Linked DNA regions of Homo sapiens: region 1 is linked to region 2. A link means that fine-mapping ties the variant in region 2 to the expression of a gene that starts in the linked region. Tissue or cell type: whole blood. Region 2 holds a variant in brackets; the other region holds the start of a gene. All regions are shown on one strand. Distances are from middle to middle.

Region 1 (8,000 bases), 45 kb before region 2:
TAACTCCTTTTGTCCAAAGTAATGCTATCTGCTTTAAATCCGGTTTTCTCTAATATCAGATTTGCCCTGATTTTTGTGTATCTGCTTTTGACTGATAGCTATTTCTAATCCTTTTATTTTAAAACTTGGTGGTGTTATCTTTGGAAAGTGTTTTGAAAGCTAAACAGTTGAATTTTGTTTGTTGATGTTCCCAAGTACGTTTCACACATTTGCATAATGTTGTTATAACTGATATGCTTGGTTTTATTTAGGTCATTGTGTGATGCTTTTTGCTTTTATTTTCTATGATTCGCTGCATTTTCCTTTGCTTTTCGACCATTGCCAAATAGATTACATTTTCTTTTCCTTTCATTTTAAGCTACTTCAGTGGTTTGAAAGTTGTACATCTGGCCAGGTGCAGTGGGTCAGGCCTATAATCCTAGCACTTTGGGAAGCTGACATGGGAAGTTTGCTTGAGCTCAGGGATTCAAGACCAGCCCTGGCAACAAAGTGAGACTCCATTCCACCAAAAAGTCTAAAAATTTGCTGGGTATGGTGGCACAAGCCTGTGGTCCCAGCTACTCAGGAAGCTGAGGCAGGAGGATTGCTTGAGCCCGGGAGGTCAAGGCTGCAGTGAGCCAAGATTGTGCCACTGCACTCCAGCCTGGGCAACAGAGTCAGACCCTGTCTCAGAAACAAAACAAAACAATACAAAAAAAGAAACAGTAAGACATGGCGCGGTGGCTCCTGTCTGTAATCCCAGCACTTTTGGAGGCCAAGGCGGGTGGATCACCTGAAGTGAGGCTTTCAAGACCAGCCTGACCAATATGGTGAAACCCTGTCTCTACTAAAAATACAAAAATTAGCCAGCCGTGGTGGCACATGCCTGTAATTCTAGCTACTCGGGAGGCTGAGGCAGGAGAATCACTTGAACCTGGGAGGCGGAGGTTGTAGTGAGCCAAGATCACGCCACTGCACTCCAGCCTGGGTGACGAGGCGAGACTGTCCCAAAAAATAAACCAACAAACAAGTGAAAGAAACAGCAGCCCAGATCCAAGGAGACAGGTTGACTGTGGATGGCCGAGGCCGCCCACCTCGGCCTCCCAAAGTGCTGGGATTACAGGCGTGACCCACCACGCCCAGCCAGAAAGCTCGTTTTGTAACCCACTTTTGGTAGCCATGTACGTAGGCAGCTTGGACAATATCTGTGGGTCCACTTGGAGGGAAGGAGGCCAGAAGGCTTGAGGGACATCTGAGTGGCATGGAGGTGACAAGGCTCTGGGAGGGCAGCAGACACTCTTGAACGCCAAGGCATGGTCAATGCCTCGTGCAGTGAGCAGCGACTCTGTGTCAGGCACTTCTCTGAACTCATCCCACGTACGAACTCATTCGCTTCCCACAGCAACCCTCCGAGGTACGCCCTATCATCATCCGCATTGCAGAGATGAGGAAACTGAAGCACAGAGAAGTTAAGTGATGTGCCCAAAGACACACAGGTGTAGGTGGCAGAGCTGGGATTGGACCCCAGGTGCTGTGGCTCCTAATCCCGGCAGGCTGGAAGCACTCCCATATGACTCCCGTGGGGCTGGGGTGGGCTTGGCAATCCTACACGAAGAAAACTTTTTTTTTTTTTTTTTTGAGATGGAGTCTCACTCTCTCACCCAGGCTGGAGTGCAGTGGCGTGATCTTGGCTCACTGCAACCTCCGCCTCCCAGGTTCAAGCGATTCTCCTGCCTCACCCTCCTGAGTAGCTGGGATTACAGGTGTGTACCACCATGCCCAGCTAATTTTTTTTTTTTTTTTTTTTTTTGAGACAGAGTCTTGCTCTGTCAACCAGGCTGGAGTGCAGTGGCGGCTCACTGCAAGCTTCGCCTCCTGGGTCCACGTCATTCTCCTGCCTCAGCCTCCCGAGTAGCTGGGACTACAGGTGGCCGCCACCATGCCTGGCTAATTTTTTGTATTTTTTGTAGTAGAGATGGGGTTTCACCGTGTTAGCCAGGATGGTCTTGATCTCCTGACCTCGTGATCTGCCTGCTTTGGCCTCCCAAAGTGCTGCTGGGATTACAGGCTTGAGCCACCGTGCCCGGCCTTTTTTTTTTTTTTTTTGAGATGGAGTTTTGCTCTCTTGCCGAGGCTGGAGTGCAGTGGTGCAGTCTTGGCTCACTGAAACCTCCACCTCTCGGGTTCAAGCGATTCTCCTACCTCAGCCTCCTGAGTAGCTGGGATTACAGGTGCGTGCCACCACACCCAGCTAATTTTTTTGTATTTTTTAGTAGAGATGGGGTTTCACCATGTTGGCCAGGCTGGTCTGGAACTCCTGACCCGCCCGTCTCGGCCTCCCAAAGTGCTGGGATTACAGGCGTAGTAAACTACCGCGTCCAGCCTAATTTTTGTATTTTTAATAGAGATGGTGTTTCACCATGTTGGCCAGGCTGGTCTTGAACTCCTGGCCTCAAGTGTTCTGCCCACCTCAGCCTCCCAAAGTGCTGGGATTACGGGCATGAGCCACCATGCCCGGCCCTGTTTTGGGGGGTTTTTTGAGATGCAGTCTTGCCCTGTTGCCCAGGCTGGAGTGCAGTGGCACAATCTCGGCTCACTGCAACCTCCGCCTCCCAGATTCAAGCGGTTCTCCTGCCTCAGCCTTCTGAGTAGCTGGGATTACAGGTGCCCGCAACTATGTCCGGCTAATTTTTGTATTTTAGTAGAGACGGAGTTTCACTACATTGGCCTGGCTGGTCTCGAACTCCTGACCTCAGGTGATCTGCCTGCCTCGGCCTCCCAAAGTGCTGGGATTACAGGCATGAGCCACCACGCCCAGCCAGAAAGCCTGTTTTGTAACCCACTTTTGGTAGCCGTGTACGTGGGTGGCTTGGACAATATTTGTGGGTCCACTTGGAGGGAAGAAGGCCAAAAGGCTTGAGGGACATCTGAGTGGCGTGGAGGTGACAAGGCTCTGGGAGGGCAGCAGACACCCTCAACGAGGGTGGAAGGTCTGCTGGGACCAGCACTGCTGAGGCTCTGGCATCTCCGTACCTGTTTCTCCCATTTCCTCCAATGGCTCCAGAGTCCTTTGGGGGAAATACTGCTCCATCCAGACTCTGAGTGGCGTGGGCCAGGGCAGGGCATCATGGTCACCAGATGGCTCCCAGCACAGGAGAGGTACAGAGCCATCCCTCCAGGGTCAGCCTCCCTGGGCAAGCAGGCTGAGTCTACCTTGTCCGGGAGGGGAGGAGGCGCATCCTGAGGGCTTAGGGGGCGTGAGCGGAGGGGAGCTCAGGGTCCCTCGGTGGATGATGGAGGAGCCACATATGGGTTACAGGGACAGACAGAAAGATGGAGAGGAAGAGACAGGGAGGCAGACACAAGGTACACTGACAGGGTCTGAAGGAGGAGGGGCTGGGGGCCTGGACTCCTGGGTCTGACAGGTACAGAGAGGAACAGACACACGCTGAAAGAGACACAAAGAGAGAGGGGACAGGCATAGTGATTCACGCCTGTAATCCCAACACTTTGGGAGGCCAAGCGGGGAGGATCACTTGAGCCCAGGAGTTCGAGACCAGTCTGGGCAACAAAGTGAGATCCCCGCCCCATCTCTACAAAAAAAAAAAAAAAAAAAAAAAGAGGGTGGGGTGGGGAGAGGGGTGGAGTTGGGGAAATACAGAGACACAAATATTGCCAGAAACAAAAAACAAGAAAGGGCCAGGCACAGTAGCTCACATCTGTAATCCCAGCTCTCTGGGAGGCTGCTGAAGCAGGAGGATCACTTGAGGCCAGCAGTTCAAGACCAGCCTGGGGAACATATGGGACCGCCCCCCGCCACCCCTCTGTCTCTACTTTAAAAAAAATTTTTTTTAATTAACAAAACCTGACCAGGCACAGTGGCTCACGTCTGTAATCCCAGCACTTTGGGAGGCCAAGGTGGGCGGATTGCTTGAGGCCAGGAGTTCAAGACCAGCCTGGTCAACATGGTAAAATCCCTTCTCTAACAAAAAATACAAAAATTAGCTGGGCATGGTGACACGAGCCTGTAATCCCAGCTACTTGGGAGGCTGAGGCAGGAGAATCACTTGAACCTAGAAGGCGGAGGTTGCAGTGAGCTGAGATCGTGCCACTGCACTCCAGAAACTGATGGAGAAGAAACATGAAGGCGGGGAGAGAGAAACTGTCAGAGGGAGGGGGAGAGAGGCAGTCTGAGAGATAGAGACACCGAGGTAAACCCGCCTCCTTCCCCAGCCCCACAGGCATAAGTAGGCAGAAGCTCACCCCCACACTGACCTCCTTCTTGGTGCTCTGACAGCGGCAGCCGGTCCTCCCTCAGCTCTGCCCGCCTTCTCTCCTGCTGCTGGCCAAGCCCATTAAGCTGCTACCTTGGCCACAACTGAAGGCCCCACGCCCTGGGAAGAAAGCTACTGAAGAGGCGTCCCTGCTCCCCAGCACCCCAAACCATCAATTAATATTAACGAGGGAAGGCTCCTCATTGCCTAAAGACCCCACTGGGGCTCCAATGGAAGAGAGGCCCCGCCCCCGTGACTCAGGAGGTTAAAGGGCCTGGTGCCGGCTTGTGAGGCCAGTGTCCAGATGGCATCCAGCAGTGGGAGGGTCACCATCCAGCTCGTGGATGAGGAGGCTGGGGTCGGAGCCGGGCGCCTGCAGCTTTTTCGGGGCCAGAGCTATGAGGCAATTCGGGCAGCCTGCCTGGATTCGGGGATCCTGTTCCGCGACCCTTACTTCCCTGCTGGCCCTGATGCCCTTGGCTATGACCAGCTGGGGCCGGACTCGGAGAAGGCCAAAGGCGTGAAATGGATGAGGCCCCATGTAAAGTGTGGCTGGGGTCTGGGCTCTGGGGTCTGAGGGAGGAGGGGCTGGAGGCATGGACTCCTGGGTCTGAGGAAGGAAGGCTGGGGGCCTGGACTCCCTGGTCTGAGGGAGGAGGGGCTCGAGACCTGGACTCTTAGGTCTGAGGGAGGAGGGGCTGGGCCTGGACTCCTGGGTCTGAGGGAGGAAGGGCTGGGCCTGGACTCTTGGGTCTGAGGGAGGAGGGGCTGGGGACCTGGACTCCTGGGTCTGAGGGAGGAGGGGGCTTGGACCTGGACTTCTGGATCTGAGGGAGGAGAGGCCAAGGCCTGGACACCTGGGTCTGAGGGAAGAGGGGGCTGGGGACCTGGACTCCGGGGTCTGAGGGAGGAGGGGCTGGACCTGGACTCCTGGGTCTGAGGGAGGAGGGGCTGGGGACCTGGATTCTTGGGTCTGAGGGAGGAGGGGCTCGGGACCTGGACTCCTGGGTCTGAGGGAGGAGGGGCTGGGCCTGGACTCCTGGGTCTGAGGGAGGAGGGGCTCGGGACCTGGACTCCTGGGTCTGAGGGAGGAGGGGCTGGGCCTGGACTCCTGGGTCTGAGGGAGGAGGGGCTCGGGACATGGACTCCTGGGTCTGAGGGAGGAGGGGCTGGGCCTGGACTCCCGGGTCTGAGGGAGGAGGGGGCTACCATGGGACTGGCTCAGCACAACTTCTGGAGACCCAGGGAAGCCATGCTCCTGCCCACAGGCTTCCAGGCCTTTCATGGGCTTGGAGGCCCTCACTCCTCTGGATGAGACCTTTCCTCGCTTTCTCAGGCTGAGGCCTGGAATCCCCCACCACCCACAGGAGTTCTGTGCTGAGCCGAAGTTCATCTGTGAAGACATGAGCCGCACAGACGTGTGTCAGGGGAGCCTGGGTGAGACCCTGAACCCACCTGGAGTCCTCAGATCCAGCTAGTTTCAGCTGAGATCCTGACAGCTCCATCCCTTTGTCCACCCACTCCCGGCCCCTGGATCCCTCCTCAGTCTCTTCTCTCCCTAGGCCTCTCTCTCCCTCCTCCCTCCTTCCTTCCTTCCTTTTTTTTTTTTTTTTTTTTTTGAGATGGGGTCTCACTCTGTCACCCATTCTGGAATACAGTGGCACCATCATAGCTCACTGCAGCCTTAACCTCCTGGACTCAAGCAATCTTCCTGCCTCAGCCTCCCAAGTAGCTGGGACTACAGGTGCATGCCACCATGCCCAGCTAATTTTTAAATTTTCTTGTAGTGGAGTCTTGCCATGTTGGCCAGGCTGGTCTTGAACTCCTAGGCTCACGTGATCTTTCTGCCTTGGCCTCCCAAAGTGCTGGGATTAGAGGCATGAGCCACCGCACCAGGCCTCCCTCCTTCCATCCTCACCTAATCCTGGCCTCTCCTCCCAGGTAACTGCTGGTTCCTTGCAGCTGCCGCCTCCCTTACTCTGTATCCCCGGCTCCTGCGCCGGGTGGTCCCTCCTGGACAGGATTTCCAGCATGGCTACGCAGGCGTCTTCCACTTCCAGGTACAGCTCAGTTCCTCTGCCCATGCCTCCGTTTCCCCCATGGTGACTTGGTGATATGGATTTTTCTTTTTTTTTTTTTTTGAGATGGAATCTCACTCTGTCATCCAGGCTGGAGTGCAGTGGCACAATCTCGGCTCACTGCAACCTTCGCCCCGCCCCCAGGTTCAAGCAATTCTCTGCCTCAGCCTCCTGAGTAGCTGGGATTACAGGCACCCGCCATCATGCCCAGCTAATTTTTTCTTATTTTTAGTAGAGATGGTATTTCACCATCTTAGCCAGGCTGGTCTCGAATTCCTGACCTCGTGATCCATCCGCCTCGGCCTCCCAAAGTGCTGGGATTACAGATGTGAGCCACCGCACCCGGCCAGCCATATGGATTTCATAGTTAACGTTGACTTGGGGCTGTAATTCCTGACTCTGGGACTGGCACAGCAGAGGCAGGGCCCAGGCAGGGTTGGAGGTTGGAAGCCGAGTCCGGCCCTGCATCTTCTCCCACCAGCTCTGGCAGTTTGGCCGCTGGATGGACGTCGTGGTGGATGACAGGCTGCCCGTGCGTGAGGGGAAGCTGATGTTCGTGCGCTCGGAACAGCGGAATGAGTTCTGGGCCCCACTCCTGGAGAAGGCCTACGCCAAGTGAGGACCCCAGTTCCAACCAGCTGCAGCCCTAAGTCCCCACAGCAGGCATCAAGCCACAGGGGGACCCAGAGTCCCCCAAGCTCTGCAATCCTCCAAACACCCCACCAAGAATCCCAAACCAAGTGACAACCGCCAGAACCCTCATATCACAACATCACCTGAGCAACTTCATGTTTTTTTTTTTTTTCTTTTTTTTTGAGACGGAGTCTCACTCACTCTGTCGCCCAGGCTGGAGTGCAGTAGCGCGATCTTGGCTCACTGCAACCTCTGCCTCCCAGGTTCCAGCGATTCTCCTGTCTCAGCCTCCCGACTAGCTGGGATTACAGGAGCGCACCACCATGCCTGGCTAATTTTTATATTTTTAGTAGAGATGGGGTTTCACCATGTTGGTCAGGCTGGTCTCCAACTCCTGATCTCAGGTGATCCACCTTCCTTGGCCTCCCAAAGTACTGGGATTACAGGTGTGAGCCACTGTGCTCAGCTGTACCTTCAAATCTTAAACCCCTCTCTCCATCAATATTTCACACAAAACATTCCTGGAGACCCCCAGTCACTCATAATTCTTAAGGATCCTGAAATCTCATATATCAGGCCCTGGATTCACCAAATCTGGGATTTATCCCCTCGGGTGAGCTGTATATCTTAGATTGTCTCTCCTGGTCCATTGAGAAATCTAAAGCACCCCCAAAATATTGGGGGTCACCCTGGGACCCTCAAATCTTTGCCTTTTCCCCATTCTGAGGCTCTGAAATTCCTGACAAGCCCCCATAGGGATGATCCCCCAAAGCGGACATCTACCAGAGGTTCAAGGTTTCAGACAGCACCAGGACTCTCAGAATTCTAACACAGCTCTCCCATGCCCCCCACCAAACCGAAGTCCTGGTCACCCCAAGGACCACAGGCCCAATCTCCAAGGGCTTCTGTATGTGCCACAGTTCCCCCCGTCAAGAGTCTGAATTTTTTTTTTTTTTTTGAGATGGAGTTTCACTCTTGTTGCCCAGGCTACAGTGCAATGGCGTGATCTTGGCTCACTGCAACCTTCGCCTCCCGA
Region 2 (8,000 bases):
TCCCTGGCCCCTGTGCTGCCCCAAGGCATCACTAGTGAAATCACATGTTGGTCGGGCTGTTTACTTGTTCACTGTCTGCCTGCCCTCGTGAGGGCGGGGCTGCTCTGACCACCACTGGATCCAGTGCCTGGAAGGCCAGTGAGGAACAAGCATGGCTGCTGTGTTGTCAGGAAGGGGAGAGCACGGGCCTGAGGCCAGACTGCACGCTTTCTGAACTAACCTAAAAACAAACATTTGCGGCCGGCTGTGGTGGCTCACGCCTGTTTAGTCCCAGCAATTTGGGAGGCTGAGGCAGGTGTGGATCGCCTGAGGTCAGGAGTTCGAGACCAGCCCGGCCAAGATGGTGAAGCCCCGTCTCTACTAAAAACACAAAATTAGCCTGGCGTGGTGGCGGGTGCTTGTAATCCCAGCTACTCTGGAGGCTGAGGCAGGAGAATTGCTTGAGCCCGGGAGGCAGAGGTTGCAGTGAGCTGAGATTGCACCATTGCACTCCAGCCTAGGTGACAAGAGTGAGATTCCATCTCAAAAAAAAAAAAAAAAAAATTGCTGAAACTTCTCAAAAGAAGGGCTTGGACCACACCTTCTTCAGCCTCAGTAACTTAAGAGAAAAATCATCTCTGCAAGGCCCAGGACAGCTGTGTGTCTGCGGCTGGGTGAGAGAAGGCAGTGCCTCATCCCAGAGTCCATCAGCCAGCCGTGCCTAGGGCAGTCCTCCCAACTTGTCAACACGCCATATGCAAGGGGCATGATGGAGTGGCTTCCAAAGAAGACAGAGGGGCGCCACTGCTGCAAGCACTCTCGGGGAAGGGCTGGGCACAGGGGTGAGTTCCAAAGCTAACTGCAGAGCTGGAGGCCCAGGACACCACAGGAGACCCTGCTCACTGACCTCTGAGCAGAATACTCCAGGGCAGGCTTGCTTGGAAGCAGGTGGAGAGGTCACAGAGAAGATGGGGCTCACCTTCCCCCGGGGACACACCCAGAGGAAGGGGGTGTCCATGAGCCACAGCTTTCGGGTTTTGAGAGGAGGAAATATGCTCATTCTGCTGCCCAGAGACAGGGGAGGGACCCAGTGTCCACCCTGTCCTAGGGTTCAGAGCCCCAGACCCAGAAACTGAGCAGCACCACCTGCCCCTTAGTGCAGCGAGGCAGCTCGAGCCTCAGGAAATCTATTCTGTGCACCTCCTGAGGGCCGGGCCTGCAGAGCTGGGCAAGGCCGCAGCTCCCCGGCTCAGCAAGTACAGGTGCAGCTGGTAACGGAGGGCTTATGGAGTTCCGGTGAGGAGAGGAGGATGGCGTTTCTCATGACACATCCACCAGCTGCTTCTCTGACCTGCAGCTGTGCCTCCGGCCCCTCTCATCACCCCCACGGGAAGCCAATGCTCCCGCGAATGCCCAATCATGTGGAAGGACAGGGGGACAGGGTGGGGCGGGGTTCTCAGGTGCCTTGAGCCCCAGGAACGCCTCCATTAGGCTTTGTTCCAAGGCCCCACAGTCACAGGGATTGGGAGTGAACCAATTTGGGCATGAACAGAGAACATTTTTAGACCAAGTTTTTCTCCAAATGAAAACTGATGACTGACATGGGTCTCTCCTCTAACCCCTTCTGTATTTACAGACTAGCATTTGAGCAAAATAAATGCAGCTGTGAGAAGCAGAAGGCTGGAACAGAGCCTGGAGGAAAGACCCATGCAAGGACAGAAAATCTCAGGGCCTGACTGAATTTTTGGGTTGTGATTTTTTTAAACAAACACCAACCACCTCGACTGTGGCATGCAAGGCTTGGCACCCCTCATCGCAGAGGTCCTGGGCCGGGGCAGAGCCTTGGAACTCAGCACACACATTCTGGCCCGGAGTCTTGGCCAAACTCTCAGAGCCCTGTCATTAACGGCAATTAGTTTACTTTGTTTTTCTAGAAGCTGGGACAACATGGATGTCAGGGTGAAGAAATCTTACTCTGACTAATGAGTGGACTGCGAGCTCATGCTGCTGGGGCTCCATCAGGCCTCGCCTGTCTCTAAAAGCGCCTGGGAGCTCAACCCAGGGGCCCCTGCTGAGAGCCTGCTGCTCTAGTGAGGGCCTGCAGGTAGTGGACTGTGGTCCTGGTTATCTACGTGGGGCCCAGGAGGATCCTGGGGTGGTCAGAGGCAAAATTCTCCAAGCCCATGCACACAGGGCAAAGTCTAGGCACTGACCTTTGGCCGTGCACTCCCTGTCCCAATGCCTGACATGGGGCCTCCAGTCCTTCTCTGATACCGGGCAGGGCATAATGAGAAAGGTGTTCCTGGTACAGAGAGAGGCCATGGCACATGTTTGTCACTGTCTGCTGAGCCTGGCACAAGGAGAACCAGTGAGGGCGACCTGAGTCCGAGTCAAAACCATTCCTCCCCCTGCAGAAGCCGTCGCCCCCGTGGTTGGGTGGGTTGCACTTCCTAGATTTGGACTGCGCCCACCGGATTTTTCCAAGGGTTTGGGGGAGCTTGTGGGCCCAGCATCATATCAAGAGCAGTTGTTGTGATCACTGCTGAGTATGTACTGGGGCTCTGAGTGCCCCAAGCGCCCTGCCACCAACAAAACTTCTCTTCAGGATGCAGATGTTGTGCTTCAGAGCCTAAAGGTCAGAAACCGAGCAGGACCCTCGCTGCCCCACCTCCAGCTCACCTTCTGCCCCGATGGAGACCAGCTTGACGCCTTTGCTGGCAATAAAGTCCAGCGCTTTGTTCACATTGTTGATTTTGTGCACTCTCATCTTCCCCCGCTCCGGCTTAGGTAACCGCTCCCCTGAGAAGTGCACAAAGAGAAAAGAGGGGGCGAGACAGAGAGAGAGAAAGGGAGAGAGGGCGAGAGGGAGAGAGGCTTTAGAGTCTCCTCTGTTCTCCAAAAGCAGGTTCCTCTGCTGGCCCACCAGGCCACTCTGGCCCCACCCATCAGACCACCGTGCAGCTATTAAGGGGTGCCCTCTCCTCCCCAGGAGCAATGGGACAGCTGGGTGGGCAGGGTCTCTGGGGACCGCTGTGGCAGAGCACCTGTGCCAGGGCTCGGCCGCACTGCGTGGCTGGGAGTCTCACCTGATATGACCTCCAGGAGCAGCATGAGCTTGAGCCCGTCTCGGAAGTCCTCATCAATGTTCTCGATCTGTGTGCCTGCCTTCCGCAGGTGGGAGTTGCACCATGCCGTGAAGGTCTGGGGAAGCAGAACAAAGGACAGTGCGCAGAGTCAGCCTGGCTGTCGGGGCTCTCTCCACACACCTGCAGGGCCGCAGCTCTGACCTCAGGAGAACCGCAGCTGCCACGGAGCACTCGCCGACACACACCGTACATGGCCGATACACACATTGTTTCTGATCCTTACAGTGACCCCGGGAGGCAGATGTGAGGAAACTGAGGCTCGGGGTGGTTAATGACCCATCACAAGACCATCCAGGCGGTAAGTGGCAGAGCTTGGATTTGAACCCAGGTCTGTCAATTTTGGCAACATGTGCTTTTTCCACACCCCCAAGCTGCCTCAAGGGAGACCAGTACGCACACCAGACAAAAGCGCCTCAGCCCGCCGCCGGCTCACTCAGTCACACAAACATGACTGAGCACCAGGCTCGGTGGTGTGGAATGAACAGGTCGGGCTCCTGCCCTCATGGGGCTTGTTTTCTTGATGAAGGCCAGCCCTTCATCTGCCAGCTAGACCCAAAGGCCCCAGCTGGACCCTGGCTTCCGTGACCCGTGGCTGCTCTCCTCAGGCAGGAGCTCAGGCTGCTACGTTCCAATCACGTGCACAGATACAACCCAGAACAGGAAAGTGGCAGGAAAAGAAAAGCTCCCATAAATGCAGGATTTCCTCGAGTCTCTCTTTGAGCTTTGGGCAGCCCAAGAGCAAGCCCTCCCAGGAAAGGCCAGGAACACAGACCCTCTGAGCCCTGCACACACGCCTGTGTCGCCTGGCTTCCTGCAAGCAAGATGCCCCCGTCCCTCTGTCTCCTGGAGAACATGCCATGCCCTATCCTTCCTATTCTTTTTTTTCCTTTTTTTTTTTTTGAGAAGGAGTCTCGCTCTGTCACCCAGGCTGGAGTGCTGTGGCGCAATCTCAGCTCACTGCAATCTCTACCTCCTGGGTTCAAGCGATTCTCATGCCTCAGCCTCCTGAGTAGCTGGGACTACGGGTGTATGCCAACATGCCCATCTAATTTTTGTCTTTTTAGTAGAGATGGGGTTTTACCATGTTGGCCAGGCTGGTCTTGAACTCCTGGCCTCAAGTGATCTACCCGCCTCGGTCTCCCAAACTGCTGGGATTACAGGCGTGAGCCACCACACCCAGCCCTATCCTTCCTATTTTTAAGACTCAGTGCAGCTTAGAGGAGGCTGGAAGGCAAGTGGGAGGCAGGCCCCCTCACCGGGGTCAGGCAGCCGCATCTAAGGAGAATGTTTCTGATGATCAACTGGAAGGGATGGAGGGTACTAAACAAGAAGCCGAAGTCCCTGACCCTAACAGACCAACGATGCTGACAGGGCATGGGTACACCCAAGCACAGGGCAC[G/A]CAGCCTCCTGGTGGTGCCCGGCTACTCAGCCCCCTGCAAGCTGGGGCATGCTCATAGACATCAGGGCCACAGAAGATCTCAGATCAGTTAACACCAACACGCCCAGGCGCCTTCAGGGAAACCAGCCCACGCACCCTCCTGCAACAGGACCTGGGAAAAACCCCAAGTGTCTGCTTCTTATAGGAACCCCTGTACCCCACCCCCTCCATCTGCAGGGGCCAGTGTAGAAGCAAGCAGACAGCCAGGGACACACAAGAGCACATTCCACGCCCCGGGTGCAGGCGGAGGCCATGCGGAGGACAAGGGGCTTCTACGGGGGCTCTGACCAAGCACCATGTGTTTTGACAACTGTCGCCAGCCCTGCTCATTCAGGGAGACTCGACACAAAGCCCCCTCCCAGACAAAGCAGCTGCCTAATTAATACGCCATACCAGTGTGGACCCAGCATGGGGCTTCCTTCCAAATCCGAAAGGGGGCAAGAGTGGACAGCTAGACCATCCCCCACCACCACCTCTCACCATGGAGAATTCCTCTACCTGGGAGACAGAGACCCCTCCTGGTGGCACAACGCTGTTCCCCCACTAAAGATACCTCCGCCCCGCCATGTAGCCAACCCTGGGCACCCCTCAAAAGTCAGGCCAAATGCCGTGCCTGGAGGGTACCCGCACCATGGCCTCCCTGACCCGGTTCTGCCTCAGACAGCCTCCTCCCTGCAGACCACATCACGCCCTTGCTCTCTGGTCTCTAACAGTTCTTGTCTCCAACAGTTCTTGTCTCCCTCCCTCCCACGGCTATGAACTCCTTGAGGGGAGGGGAGCCAAGGCAGGTTCTCACTGCGGAGAGTACTAACTCACCTTCCCAGCCTCCCCCATACAATACTGAATTCAGAGAGCCCAGGGCGGGAACCATGCTTACACCACTCATGTGGGCACGTCACCTAACCTTCCTAACTTCCATTTCCTCCTCTGCAACGTGGGGATGAAGACCCCACCTAGGCCACGGGCAGTGTGAGGACTCAAGATGGCCATGCCTGCAGCGTGCATGGCAATGCTCAGGAAGTGGCAGCTCTCTGGATGGCCCTGTGCCTCCCAGCATCTCCTCCCTCCCTGCCCTGGTCTCAGGAGTCCTGCCCACCCCCTCCACAGTGTGCCTGCTCTGTCCCCGGCCCACCCTCAGCACCTCTCCCGTAGCAACCCCCAGTCACTTTTAGTCTTATTGGATGTTGCATGCACATGAGCTTTCTCTCCTACCATGTGCGAGCTCCAGGGGTTGGGAAGTACGGCGCCTGCACCTTTACAGCCCCAGAGCACTGCCAGCCTTGATGGCAGGCAGCAAGCAGGCGTGGAGCCCAGGAGCCCAGCAGCCCTGCAGAGCAAAGGGCAGCAGCAAATGGGCTGGGAAGGAAGTGGCCACGGATGCTAGGCCTCTACTCTCACATGTGCCTGAGAGCAGGCACTGCTGGGCAGCAAAGTAGCCAAGACACATCCCACAGCCTGAGGACAAAAGAGGGCTGTTCCCCGAGGGCAAGGCCCCGTGCTCTGGTGTTGCCAGGCCCAGACCTAGGCACCTGGGCTGCAGGGAGGGCCACGCACGCGTGCAAACAGCACCCCTCACAGCCTTGGCCTGTGTGGGCTGCTCCTGCAGGCTCTGCAGGGGCACAGACCTGGGTTTGGGTTTGAATACCTGCCCCTTGGCTTACTCATTCCATGTTTTCAACCAAGTGACTTTACCTACTTAAGTCTGTTTCCTTCCCTGTAAGATGGATTTATCAGAATCTACCTCCTGCAGTGTGCTCTAAGAATTAAACTAGGGAAAATACATTTAAAGCATGTGACAGGCTCCTTGGCATAAAGTAAGAGCCAGATGAATCACACGCATGTGTGTGCATGTACACACGCACATAAGCACGTGCTGAGATCCAGTCTCTTCTCTGCAAAGGCTCTCAGACCACCCACTGGTATGCAGGGAAAATGGGATGGCAGGAGACCCTCTGCGGATGGCCCCACCCCACCCTGTGGAGGCTGTGAACAAACCTCGCCGCTTGGGTTCTGGCCACCTGTCCTCAGAGGGGCTGCTGCCCTACCCGCCCTCCATACGTACATCCCACCTGTGCTCATCTTCTCTGGGTAGTAAACAAGAGCTCTGGCTTGGGCATCACACAGGTGCGGATTCACATCTTGCTTCTGCCACTGAGGCCTCAGGCAAGCAATAAGCCTCAGTTTCCTCACTGATAAACAGGACAGTAACCGAGAGGTTAAGATAGGGATTAAACACAAGGACACATGTCAATCACTCCGTGCTGTGTTAAATGCATGTCAAAGGAAGGTTTGCTCTGAAAGCAATGGTAACTCTTCCGTGTACTCTGTCTTCCTGACTGACACAGGCAAAGCCCCAAGCACAGGTGCTCAGGGAGGATGCCCACTCGCCTGGCCTGGATGACGCAGAAGGGAACTCCCACCCAGATCCGGACCTGACACAGGCTTGGGGAACCCCACTGATGCACTCCTGTTCTCACCCCATGTCTTGCTTTGCCCTGTTTTGTCCTCCTGGAAGATGAGGGGCATCTATTGACATCAGAGGTTCACAAAGCCCTCAGCTCTGGTGAGGAGAGCCTGCACTCACAAGGCCACCCTTGGGAACAGGTCGACCATGACGGCCACTTCTCCATGCGGAGAGACTGGTGAGTAGGAGCTGGAGTTCGAATGGGACATTAAAAATTCATCGCTTCTTCTACTTGGTTACAAAAATAACACTCTGCTTCCATCCTTCCTCTCCCTACCCGGTTTAGACTACGCTGCGTGGGGTGGATGGTGTGGAGAGGTGGTTTCTATAGATGGGGGCCCTATGCGCCCACCACGCCGCCCTCCACCATGCAAAATTCTCAGAATGTGGGCAGCCGACCTCATGATGCCCCAGGCCACCATGGGTCCGTACATATTCATTCTCTGGACAAGCATATGCTGGGGGTCAGCAGAGGGCCAGGCCCTGTGCTGAATCCATAACAGTGAGCAAAAGCAGACACTCTCATGAGGCTCCAGGTCTGATCTCATTAATCAAGCGATCAGTCCACTCCAGAAATAACGCCCTTAGGAAAAGTGGTAATAATAACAGCAATAACTGCAGCAGACACTTCCATAGAGTCTACTAGGGGCGGGCACTGCTCGAGGCACTTGGTCACTTACTAATTCTGTCACCCTCGTAATCATCTCTGGAGGGAGGTGCTAGTACTGCCTCCATTTTGCAGATGAGGAAACGGAGGGCCTGAGAGGTGAAGTGGCTTGCTCCCATCAGTCACACACCTAGAAAGTTACAGAGCTGGGTTTAAAGCCAGGTGCTGGGCTCCTGGGGCCGAGTTTGTGTCACCTCCCCTGGGATGGGAGCTGAAGAGTGCGGTCAGCATGGTGGCGGGGTGGGGGGGCACCAAGCGACTGGTGAGGCAGACACAGAAAGGTGTCCTTGAAGAAGTCATTCTCAA

The links. PIP is the estimated chance that this variant, and not a neighbour inherited with it, causes the effect.
Region 1: CAPN12 starts here. The variant in region 2 is fine-mapped to the expression of CAPN12 in whole blood (INTERVAL, PIP above 0.99). The same link has a PIP of 0.9 or more in thyroid.

The regions. Positions count from the first base shown.
Region 1 is chr19:38,740,723-38,748,722 of GRCh38, reverse strand. CAPN12 (calpain 12) reads left to right here and starts at 4,249. Exons shown (of 21, transcript NM_144691.4): 1 at 4,249-4,794; 2 at 5,621-5,690; 3 at 6,195-6,313; 4 at 6,813-6,946. The coding sequence starts at 4,558.
Region 2 is chr19:38,695,780-38,703,779 of GRCh38, reverse strand. ACTN4 (actinin alpha 4) reads right to left here. Exons shown (of 21, transcript NM_004924.6): 2 at 3,066-3,180; 3 at 2,659-2,778. It overlaps LOC107985291 (a long non-coding RNA gene), which reads left to right. Exons shown (of 2, transcript XR_001753937.2): 2 at 1,616-1,856. Among named protein-coding and RNA genes, the nearest start is that of CAPN12, 45 kb to the left of the region's middle. RefSeq lists an enhancer at 775-1,275. The variant G/A (reference allele first, on the strand shown) is at 4,525.